Linked DNA regions of Homo sapiens: region 1 is linked to region 2. Evidence: fine-mapped expression QTL. A gene starts in region 2. The other region holds a variant in brackets. All regions are shown on one strand. Distances are between the middles of the regions. Region 1 overlaps RASSF3 (Ras association domain family member 3). Region 2 holds the start of RASSF3 (Ras association domain family member 3).

Region 1 (5,370 bases), 85 kb after region 2:
GCCCATTTGGTGGATTTACTTATTTTTCACTCTTTGTTTGTATTTGGTTATCTTGAATCTTTTCTCTACACCATCAGACAGCAGTTCTCCACCAGGATCCAGGGCCCCCTTTGGGAGAGGAGGATGTGTTTGGAAAAAACCTCGTAGATGATGCTAGATACCCTCCTTGACATTCACTGCTTCTATTTTTTAAAATCTGTTTTAATTTTTTTTTTTTTCTTTTTAAAGAGACTAGGTCTTGCACTGTCACCCAGGCTGGAGTACAGTGGCGCAATCATGGCTCACTGCAGCCTCAATCTCCCGGGCTCAAGCAATCCTCCTACCTCAGCCTCCCAAGTAACTGGGACTACAGGAATGTACTGCCACAGCCAGATAATTTTTAAATTTTTTGTAGCGACCTGGTGTCACTATTTTGCCCAGGCTGGTCTCGAACTTCTGGTCTTGAACTTCTGGGCTCAAATGATCCTCCTGCCTAAGCATTCCAAAGTGCTAGGATTATAGGCATGAGCCACAATGCCCAGCCTAAAAACTTATTTTGTGCCTGCTAAATAAGTACTAGGAGCTGTTAGGGAAACAAGGCTCAGAGCCTCAAGGCAAGAGATAAACTCCAAATAGCGAGAAGTACGGCAGCTGTGGTGTAGGTAAGGTGCAGGTGAGATAGATATTAAGCAAATAATTGTAATTTAAAAATCTTGGTTGTGATCAGGGGCTCTGTGAAGGCTTTTGATACACTTAGCCTTGGGTGGGAAGAGAGGAGAGGAAGTTGTGGAAAGCTGCTTAGAGAAAGTGGCATTTAAGCTGAGATGGGGAGGATGAGTAGTTCATAGCCAGGCAAAGTGGAGGAGGGGAGAATGCGTGCCACTTGGGCAGAGAGTGAAGCTCGGTGAGAGAGAGATGGGGCCGGAGAGTTTAGAGTCTTTCAGACAGCATCAGCAACTAAGGGAAGCCATTGGATGGTTCTAAGCAGGGGAGAGTCTTGGCCAGATGAGCATTTTACAAAGGATGTTCTGTTTGGGGAACAGATGGGGGAGCATAAGAGCCGAGTGAGGAGGCCAGGTAGGAAGCTGTTCCAGCGATGCAGGAATAGATGATAGTAGCTAGCACCAAGGGGCCGTACCGAGGGAGAAAAGGCTGAATGGAGAACTGTTTGGGGGTGATAAGACTGATTATGCGAGGTAAGAAAGTCAGTTACAATGAGGACTCGAGGTTAAGATGAAAGGACTGTCGAATTGTTTTTAATGCTGTTGGGGGTCAAATCAGGTAAGGAATGAAAGTGTCCAATAGACTTAGGGATATGGAGGTCTCTGGCTTTTAGGGAGATCGTCTTGAACAGTGGGAGGAGAGGGTAGGAAGGTGATTGGTGTGAGCTGAGGTGGGAGTGGGAGTGGAGGGAGCCCTTAGGCTGGCAACACCCCAGCTCTTGCAGACCACACCTTCTGCGGCATGGGGCTGGGAGGGGAGGGCAGCCGCACCTCTGGGAGCTCCTGGTCAGCATTCCTAAGTCTAACTGAGTATTAAACATCTGGCATTTTTCTTTCTGTGTTTCCTGACAGTGGGAAGCCTTCAGCCTTCCAGAACTACAGAATTTCTTGCGCATCTTGGACAAGGAAGAAGATGAACAGCTGCAGAACCTGAAGAGGCGCTACACAGCCTACAGGCAGAAGCTGGAAGAAGCCCTCCGTGAGGTGTGGAAGCCTGATTAAAGCGGGGCTCCCTGCCCGTGAGGCCCGGTGCAGGACCGATGTACAAAACAGCAGCAAGTGCCTCTCTTCTCAGAGGGCTGCTGTCTTGCCCCACTATGCTAGGGTCTTCGCCTTTCTATCTGTAGATTTTGTTCCCCAAACCTGGTCACACAGCATCCTGCACCTTAGCGTCCCATGTAAGGGACTCTGCAAGCTTGTTGTTCAGCACCGCAGTGTTACCTCTTGGCAAGCTGTGAACCTGTCGCCTCATCAGGAGCATTCGAGGGTGCTTGGAAGCATGAACTCTGGGGGTGTTTTTTTTTTTGGTTATTTTAATTATGTGATGATGCTGTTAAGCTTACAGATATGCAGTTGATTTTTTAAAAAGCTTAACTAGGAATCTTTCTGAATACTTGTCCTATTTTGAAACTACCTGTCTGGTTTTTTGTTTGGTTTTGTTTTCTTTTTTTAATGTCAGAGGAATCTATCCATGTGAATCGAAAGGCACAGGAATCTAGGAACTCTGAGGAATTTATTGTGAAGGATTTTGTTAGGGGGTTGACAGAGAAAGCAAAGTGTAAGTTTGGAAGAAGGCATGTGCGGTGGTGGCGAGTGCTGCGGGCTATGGAAGGTGACTTGGCTTTTCAGTTAGGGGTAGTGGAGAAAGGGGTAGTTGCTTGTAAACGAGTTAAAAGCATTCAGTGTGGAGGTGTTAAACCCATTTTAGGATCGCTTGGTTTCCTGGTGGGTAGAATATGGGAACAGAGCCAGAGGCAGGAGCTAAACCAAAAGGAGGGACCCATGAACTCTGCAGCTGACCAATCAGAGAATCAGGCAGGTGTAGCCTACTGACCTGGGCAGAGGTGGGCCTCACGCAGCTGGATCCGACCCTTTAATTCTGCCCTTTTGGAGTGGAAGGTCTGATTGGTGTAGCTGCTCTGCATAGGCAGGACAGTGACAGTTCACTAACTCTTGTTAAGTTACATAGTGTATAGCTTTCCCCCCACAGGTGGTTTTCAAAGTTGAGACGGAATTTGGGTAGGGGCAGCTGTTTTTCCCTTGATTGTTAGCTAGGATATTTGTCAAGTAAACTTTGGTGACAATCACTCTCTTCCCTTTTATTCCTCCTTTCCTTTTCCTTTCTTCCCTTTTTTCTTTCCTTCCCTGCTGTCTCCCACCCTACCTTGTTCTTTTCCTCCCTCCCTCCCTCCCTCCCTCCCTCCCTCCCTCCTTCCCTCCCTCTCTCTCCCTCTCCCTTTCTTTTCTACATTGAAATCTGTTCTTACATAATAGAGAACAGGGCTATTGAATAAAGACCCAATCCTACCAGATCTTTAGTTCTAAAGGGCAACTTGACTGTGAGTAGGAGGGCCCCCAAGAAAGG[G/A]AGGAAAGTCCACACCCAGCTAACCACACAACAGGGCTTCATTATGGAAATATTTTAACAAAAGTACATGTTATTACCAACCAAAGAGATGCATGTGCAATAGAAGCCTTCCTTAAAAACAGGCTAAATAACCTCATTTTATGCAGCAGTTTAATCTGAGAACAGAGGGAAAGGTGTGCAGTGGTTCCAGAGGGGCCTTATATTCTATTTTTAGTCTAGATATTTTTTGTTTATAAATTCCCAAGGAATTGTTAACACTTTGGTGACACCTAATGGATTCTTTTTGAAATTCCAAGGTGCTTCAGTTCTTTGCCCAAGTGAACTGTGCCTTTTATTGCATTTCTGTTCGTCTCTTGGTGGCTCTTCTGACTTTTTGGAGAATACCCATCTTGTTGGAGGCAGACTTAAGTTGTTATGCTGTGCCACACAATTTACTGAGACAATCATATCTTCCTAAGCATTTAAGGAAAGTTGAAAAAAATAGAATTAGCTATAAAATATGTATGGCACATCTTGTTTAATTTTGCATGTAACTTCTCTTTTGTACATTGATGAGGTTTTAGTGACATTGTCATCCAACACTTTACCTTTATTGTTCAGGGAATGCCTTCGTGATTTTTTGTACTGGTTTTATTATTCAGACTATGGCCTGGATTTGAGTATATTGTTATTACCACCTGGTTTTTTAATTATTCATCCCAGTAAACTTATATTTTGTGAAGCATTTGTTTCTCAGATTAAGACACTGTTAGAACCTAAAGTAGTAGCTGATGGGTATCTGTGAATTTTTTTTTTTTTTTTTTTTTTACTTGAAGTAGATTGTCTGAATAGGCATCCTCATCTATATTTACCCAAAACCTCGCTTACTGTCATGTGCACTACAAATTGCAATTTGGAAACCTACTGTATTGAAATTCTGTCAGTTTATGGTTCTTGAAGACTGATGTCCTTTCCCAAACACTGGTTACTGCAGCAGCATTTTTAATGTGTAAGTGAAGAAAAAAGGCCACTAAGGCCAAAGATTTTTTAAGAATCATTGTACAAATCATTATGTTAAACTATCTAAGCTTTGCTGTAATACTGTTTTCTCTTCAATATGTGATGGTACAGGAAGGATGTTAAATGAAGGGGTGGTATTGCAGGAGAGCATTTTAAATGGCAGAAGTAAAAAGTTATAATATTTATAATTTTGATGGGTTTAAGTTTATTTTTGTAGGGAAGATTTTTCTCCCCTAAAATAGTTTCTAGAATGGCAAAATTGTTTCCATTATTAAAAATTGAAGTTATTAGTTGTTTATGTGTGTTTATTTATGATAATATGCTAGATTTAAAAAGGTCACAGGAGTGCGCTGAGCTGCTTTTGCACATATACACAGGGACACATGCTGGAATGCAACAACTTTACTAGGTTCGCGTGGGTCATATTTGTTCTCCCAGATATCATTTTCTCTTTGCCTTATCCTCTGAGGAAAAATAACCCTAAGCTCACACAGCATATTCCAATGTATTTAAAACAATTGTTTTAATTTTTGAAATATACACATTTAAAAGTATATAAAGCATGCAAAAGAGGAGGGAGGCCGAGAGTGAAAAAATAAAAATAAAAAAGCATGCGAACAGTTTAAAGGATTATTATATAAAATGGACACCCCCTGACCATTACTAAAATAGAACCTTGTCAGTTCTTTAGAAATCTCTCCCTCCACCCCTGTTCTTGCCCTGAGGTCTCCTACCCCTGAAACATACCACTTCAACATAAAGTGAGTATTTGTATTTTTTTGGTCACCATGACTGCCTTACACAGATGGGATGGATAGTGTCTGGGGAACCACAGGGACGATGGAGTGCCACCCTCTGCGCACCTGCACCTCGGCTTTGTGCCATGGTTTCAGCTTCCATGCCTGCTGTTGGGAGTGTTTTTACTACTACACTGCCCCCTGGAGGGGCTGATGAAAGGAGCAAGGCTGGCACCAGGTGGTAGAGGCCTTTCACGTACCATAGCTGCTCCCTAAATAAAAATACTGTGATAGAAAATTATGGCTCTGTATAATTTTGCTTTTCTACTGAAATATTCAGAGGAATCAGGTTTGGGGGTTCTACTTGGGTTACTACCCAAGGTGCGTGGAGAATGTTTGGGAATTTTTATATTTTTATCCTTTATTTTTTTTGGAGATGGAGTCTCAATGTGCCACCCAGGCTAGAGTGCAGTGGCATGATCTTGGCTCACTGTAACCTCCACCTCCCAGGTTCAAGCGATTCTCCTGCCTCAGCCTCCCTAGTAGCTGGGATTACAGGTGCCTGCCA
Region 2 (5,370 bases):
TAATCATGCCTTTATAAAAAAATCATTTTTTTTTAGAGAAAAGGTCTCACTATGTTGGTCAGGCTGGATAGGAACTCCTGAGTTCAAGTGATCCTCCACCTCAGCTTCCCCCTGTGCCCCACTCAATCATGCCTTTTTATTATAACTGATTCTGATGGTATGCTGACAGATATACAAATTAATCCAGTCCTTTGGAGCTTAAAAATAATACAATGAAAAAAATCATTTTTATGGTGTGGTGCATCATAAAGTTTATTTATTTATTTATTGAGACGAAGTTTTGCTCTTGTCGCCCAGACTGGAGTGCAATGGCGCCACCTCGGGTCACTGCAACCTAGGCCACTCCGGGTTCAAGCGATTCTCCTGCCTCAGCCTCCCGAGTAGCTGGCGCACGCTACCACGCCCAACTAATTTTTGTAGTTTTAGTAGAGGCGGGGTTTCACCACGTTGGCCAGGCTGGTTTCCAACTCCTGACCTCAAGTGATCCACCCGCCTCTGCCTCCTCAGGCGTGAGCCATCGCGCCCGGCCAATAAAGCATTTTAATGCATTTTTCCTCAAAGTATTCATAAACTTCAACTTGTTCTAGGTAAAATTATTTTCCCCTTTCTACCCACAATAAAATGAGTAATTTAAGCCCTTAACCTACACATTATTCTTACCTTGGAATATTTAATAAGAGCTGCGCTAATATTATATCTGAATAATGAAATAAGAGAAACCAAATAAGAAAAATTTGTCATAAAGCCCTATTCTCCTACATTAGATTATGTGCATGGCACACACACGGATCAGCTTAAGCTGGGTGAAACTATATGGAGTTAGAATTCCTGGCTTCCTATCATTCAGTAGCTGTGTGGCCGAGAAGAAGACTTTAATGTTGTAGGACCTTTAAAATGGGCTGTAACTCAAAGGCCCTCCTTCTGGAGTTGTTGTGAATCACGTGGGGTAATATATACTAGTTTACAAGATGGATGTGTAAGCCCGAAGGTGGAGCAGGTTTGCAAGCCTTCTTTCAGCCTAGGGACAGTAGGATGACTCATGAGTCAATTCTTCTCTCCTTCCCGTCATTTCGGGTCCAACTCTTCCTCCTGTAGTCCACAAAAGAGCACGGCTGACCGATACCAAGCAGAGAACCCAGTAGGGTATGTGACCACGTTCAGATCAACAGAACGCAAAGCAGAACGGTCCGAGTACTGCCTCCTACAGCCACTTTCCTTTCTTTAAGCCTCAGCTGCTGCTCTAGGTGTAAAACCGGCATAAAATAGCACTACGTACCTTGCAGAGTTGCTCGGAGGATTGAAGGAGATAATGTAAGAGAGTTTGGCTAGTTTGGCTATGATGGATGGACATTTTCTCTTTTCTAACGTCTCTCTTCCCCTCCTAATGAAACCTCTTCTGAAGCTCGCTAACTATAGCAGGGCTTGCAGCTTCAAAAAAACCTTTCAGTCAAGATCTTGAAATTAGTATTATTTAAATCAGTGCAGTAACACCAAGGTGTAAAAGACTGTTACCCACTGGTGGCTTTAAGAGGATTAGCTGACTGAAGAGTTTTAGAAAACATGGAAACTTTTTTTGTACGTGGATGGATGGAATTCCCTGATCTCCTTATCCCCACCACTTAAACCATGCCTTGTGGGTGACCGTGGAAGGCTGATTGTGGCGGGGACATTTACAAAGCACATTTAATTGATAAGCACTCGATTGTTCTGTAACTATAGAACTAGTTCACCTTTCAGTTGCACTGAGTGCGCCTAAGATAACGATCTTATTTGGAAGTGAGCCCTCGCTAGAAAGAAGGGGAAAAGGGTAAGACCGAAGCTCAAATGAATGACCAGAAAGGATGTTTTCATTCGAATAAACTCAACCCAGTTTTTGACCTCCCCACCCATCTCTGCCAACTTGAAATCCTCCTGGAGGGGCGAGCTGCTGGGGTTCAGGACTGGGCGTTGCGGCTGCAGGAAGCCGTGGGACCTGGGGGGTCCCTCGGCCGGGCAACCCCCACCCACCCCTACAGGACCCTGGTGCGGGGGCGAGCAGGGAGTGGACGCAGAGAAAGTTCCCCGCTCTGCTCCCGCCCTCTCCGAAACTCGAGCCAGCGAGGCTGGGGGCGGGCGGACGGCTCGCAGAGGAATTTGCAGTTTCCGGGAGGTTGAGGAAGCGACCCGAGCACAGCCCCAGCAGACGCAGCCCTAGCGCCCGGCTTTCCGGGTTCCGCGACGCTGTCGGGAGAAACCCGCGCGCCTGGAAGGGGCGGGCCGGGCTCCCCCCACCTGCGGGCGGGCGGGGAGGGTCGCGGCCGCGCGGGGTGGGGCTCGGCCGGTCGCCCGTCCGGGGCGGGGCCCAGGGAGGCGGGGTCGCGGGCGCACCGGGGCCGAGCCGCGCCTGGAGCCTGGCGGGGAGGCGGCAGGAGGGGCCGGGAGAGCCTGATTGAGCGGCGGCCGCAGCTGCATAAGGACTGCCCGGGGCTGCGCGCCGGGAACCTCGCGGGGCTGGCGGGCGCCGCACCCCCTCCCTGGCCGCCTGCGCCCCGGGGAGGCCGCCCGCGCGCGACGGGACCGGCAGCATGAGCAGCGGCTACAGCAGCCTGGAGGAGGACGCCGAGGACTTCTTCTTCACCGCCAGGACCTCCTTCTTCAGGAGAGCGCCCCAGGGCAAGCCCCGCTCCGGCCAACAAGTGAGTGGCGCGCGGCGGGCGCTGCAGCCCGCGCCCCAGAGTTCCGGGGAACCCGCCAGCCCGCGCCCCCTGCCTCCACGTGTCTCTGCGGGGCGCTCGGGGGATGCTCGCCGGGAAGGAGGAGCGGGCCGAGAAGTGGCTTCTGCCTTTTCGGGTCCCGGGAACGTGCCTGGAGCTTGTGCGTGTAGGCGAGGGAAGGCGGAGGAAGGGCGGGGAGGCTGAGGGCCGGCTTCTGCCTTCCGCGCCAGATGGCCTCTGCAGCTCCGCCTCGGGCTGCCGCCTGCGGGGAGCAGCCCCGGAGCCAGCAGGCGTCCCCGGGCCACTCCCCCAGGTTTCCCCTTCGCGTCCCCGCTGGGTCGACGGTCGGGTTCGCGCGCCTGTCCTTCCTGTTAGTCAGCTTACTCATCTGTGGCCCCCAGAGTGGCTTGGGTCAACGTGTAATAGCTAGGGGTGGCCGGGTGACCTGACCTCCCCTCTTCCTGGCCCGGGCGACCTGGTGGAGTGGGGGTCCAAGGGCACCGTGGGCCTCGCCACCATAGGCTCTCACTAAATCTCCGTTGCGGGACTCAGGGTTGTGCGTTTTCTGTAAAGCTAGGTTTTTTGGTGCCCAGATGTTTTGCAAACAAGCTCCTATGCTAAATACTAGCCAGCGACAGCTAACCTTTTCGCCGGTTTCTTCCTTTTTTGGAGGCAGCATGCCGTGGGAAGCACGAGTTGGGAAAAGATGGGAAGGGAACTTGTGCCAGTTTCGCCAGCTGTAGCCGTGTTTTTTGGGAGGCCTTCCCGAAACGGGGCACGTCGGCTGGACTGAGGAGCCCGGTGCTAGAGCCCGCGGCCTCCTGGCACTAGGAGCCGCACCAGGGGAGCCGGGCCAACCCGGCCACGCTCACATCAGATTACAGAAGATTGTAATGGCACAAATTTGTTGCTTTTAGAAAACAGGCGTTCGCCAAACATTTCTATTAATACCGGACTGAGACCTAGAGACTAGAAGCAAGAAGAATCGTTCAGGGGCCGGATGATAACTTCTTTTGGTGGATGTGGGAGGGTGCAATCTGTCAGGGTGGTCTTGCCAGACCTCTTAAGTTTAGCCACTTTCTGAAGTAAAATTCTTTCTAAAATTCGGAAGTTCTAGTCTTTTCAGGCTCTTAAGTCCCAAACCAGGAGGAGGAGAGGAGACGGTGAAGGGTAAGCTGAAGTCAAGTGCCCTTATTCAGTAACCGCAGTTAATCTCAAGTCCCGGTGCCATAGTTGTCCGTCTTGTATTGTTTCTAAGGCTTAAGGCCCCACTATTTACGAGTCACTTTGAGTGGGATCTCTTACTTTCAGCAGAGTGTGTTCTGAGAGCATGAGATTGCTGTGAAGTTTGGAAGTTGGAAACGCCCTCTCCTCCCCCATGCCCACCCTCCCTGGGTTGTAGAAAAATTGCATTTGCTTATGCTTTTTCCATTTTTGCTTTCTCTTTCTTGGCCTCTCTCTTCCCCTTCTCCGTTTTGCATTTTCTCCTTTCATTTATGTTGCTTTCACCACTTGACATGAAAAGGAACTCATGGTAGTTTGAAGTTTATTCCAGAGGTGTCTGCTAATCTCCTGAAAACTGGCTGGTTCTTGGATTCTCCAGGGGTGAGATGCCACAAGGGCCAAACTATTCAGGTTTGAATTGTATGAGAATCCTTTAGTGCTTTAAAGAGTAAAGACATCAGTTTTTTTCTAGGTTTATATGCATTTAGCGTTTCTTTTTTTTTTTTTTTTTTTGAGATGGAGTCTCACTGTGTTACCCAGGCTGGAGTGCAGTCGTGTGATCTCACTGCAACCTCAGCTTCCCTGGTTCAAGCGATTCCCTTGCCTCAGCTTCCCGAGTAGCTGAGATTACAGGCATGCACCACCACATCTGGCTCATTTTTGTATTTTTAGTAGAGATGGGATTTAACCATGTTGGCCAGGCTGGTCTCGAACTCCTGGCCTCAGGTAATCTGCCCGCCTTGGCCTCCCAAAGTGCAGGGATTACAGATGTGAGCCACCGCCCCCGGCACATTTATTGTTTCTATGTTGTATGCAATCATTTATGTATCATCTAGCATATATATTATACTCAGGGTAGTATTATTTAGCATTTAGAATTAGTCTAACATTAATATGTATTTTGAAATATCGTGTTGGAAATCAGGACAGGAAGACATAGTTCGTGGTTGAAGAGCTTCATATGTGTATTTGAAGCTTTATTGCCTGCATATTTTTCCCTTCTAACATAACACATGTAAGGTGCTGAGTTGTAGAAGTTATTTGCCAGGCAGAGAAAGTGTTCTAAACTACGAATTTTAGTGAGCATTGTGGTTTATTTAAAGAAGTGATATGAATGTTTTAAATTCCTGGTAAGATTGGTGAATTAGGGAAGTAAAACATCATAAATATAAAGCAAAACACTCTTAATGTAGAATGTTCCTTTTATCTAACGTTAGATAAGCCTTTTTCTTCATTTTCATGCTGATGATTATAAGAATAAGATAAGCACTTCTGACATACATCATAGTAGTGAAATTTATCCTTTCTCTAGAGAGATGGAAAGAGAGGTATTGCTAGAAGGATCTATTAGAGATACAGTGATTTTTTTTTTTTTTGGATGCTGTACCACCTGGTGGAAAAGTGAGAAAAATGAGGTTTCTAGATTTCTTGAAAATATCCGGAGAAAACAAGA

The links.
Region 1: its variant is fine-mapped to the expression of RASSF3 in whole blood (TOPMed, PIP above 0.99). The same link has a PIP of 0.9 or more in blood mononuclear cells.

Annotation. Positions count from the first base shown.
Region 1 is chr12:64,693,210-64,698,579 of GRCh38, forward strand. RASSF3 (Ras association domain family member 3) reads left to right here. Exons shown (of 5, transcript NM_178169.4): 5 at 1,554-4,355. The coding sequence ends at 1,703. Among named protein-coding and RNA genes, the nearest start is that of GNS, 64 kb to the right of the region's middle. RefSeq lists a silencer at 980-1,274. The variant G/A (reference allele first, on the strand shown) is at 3,067.
Region 2 is chr12:64,608,069-64,613,438 of GRCh38, forward strand. RASSF3 (Ras association domain family member 3) reads left to right here and starts at 2,427. Exons shown (of 5, transcript NM_178169.4): 1 at 2,427-2,675. The coding sequence starts at 2,565. RASSF3-DT (RASSF3 divergent transcript) reads right to left here and starts at 1,398. Exons shown (of 2, transcript NR_187549.1): 1 at 1,277-1,398. RefSeq lists enhancers at 967-1,016, 1,237-1,296 and silencers at 1,927-1,996, 2,157-2,676, 2,887-2,956.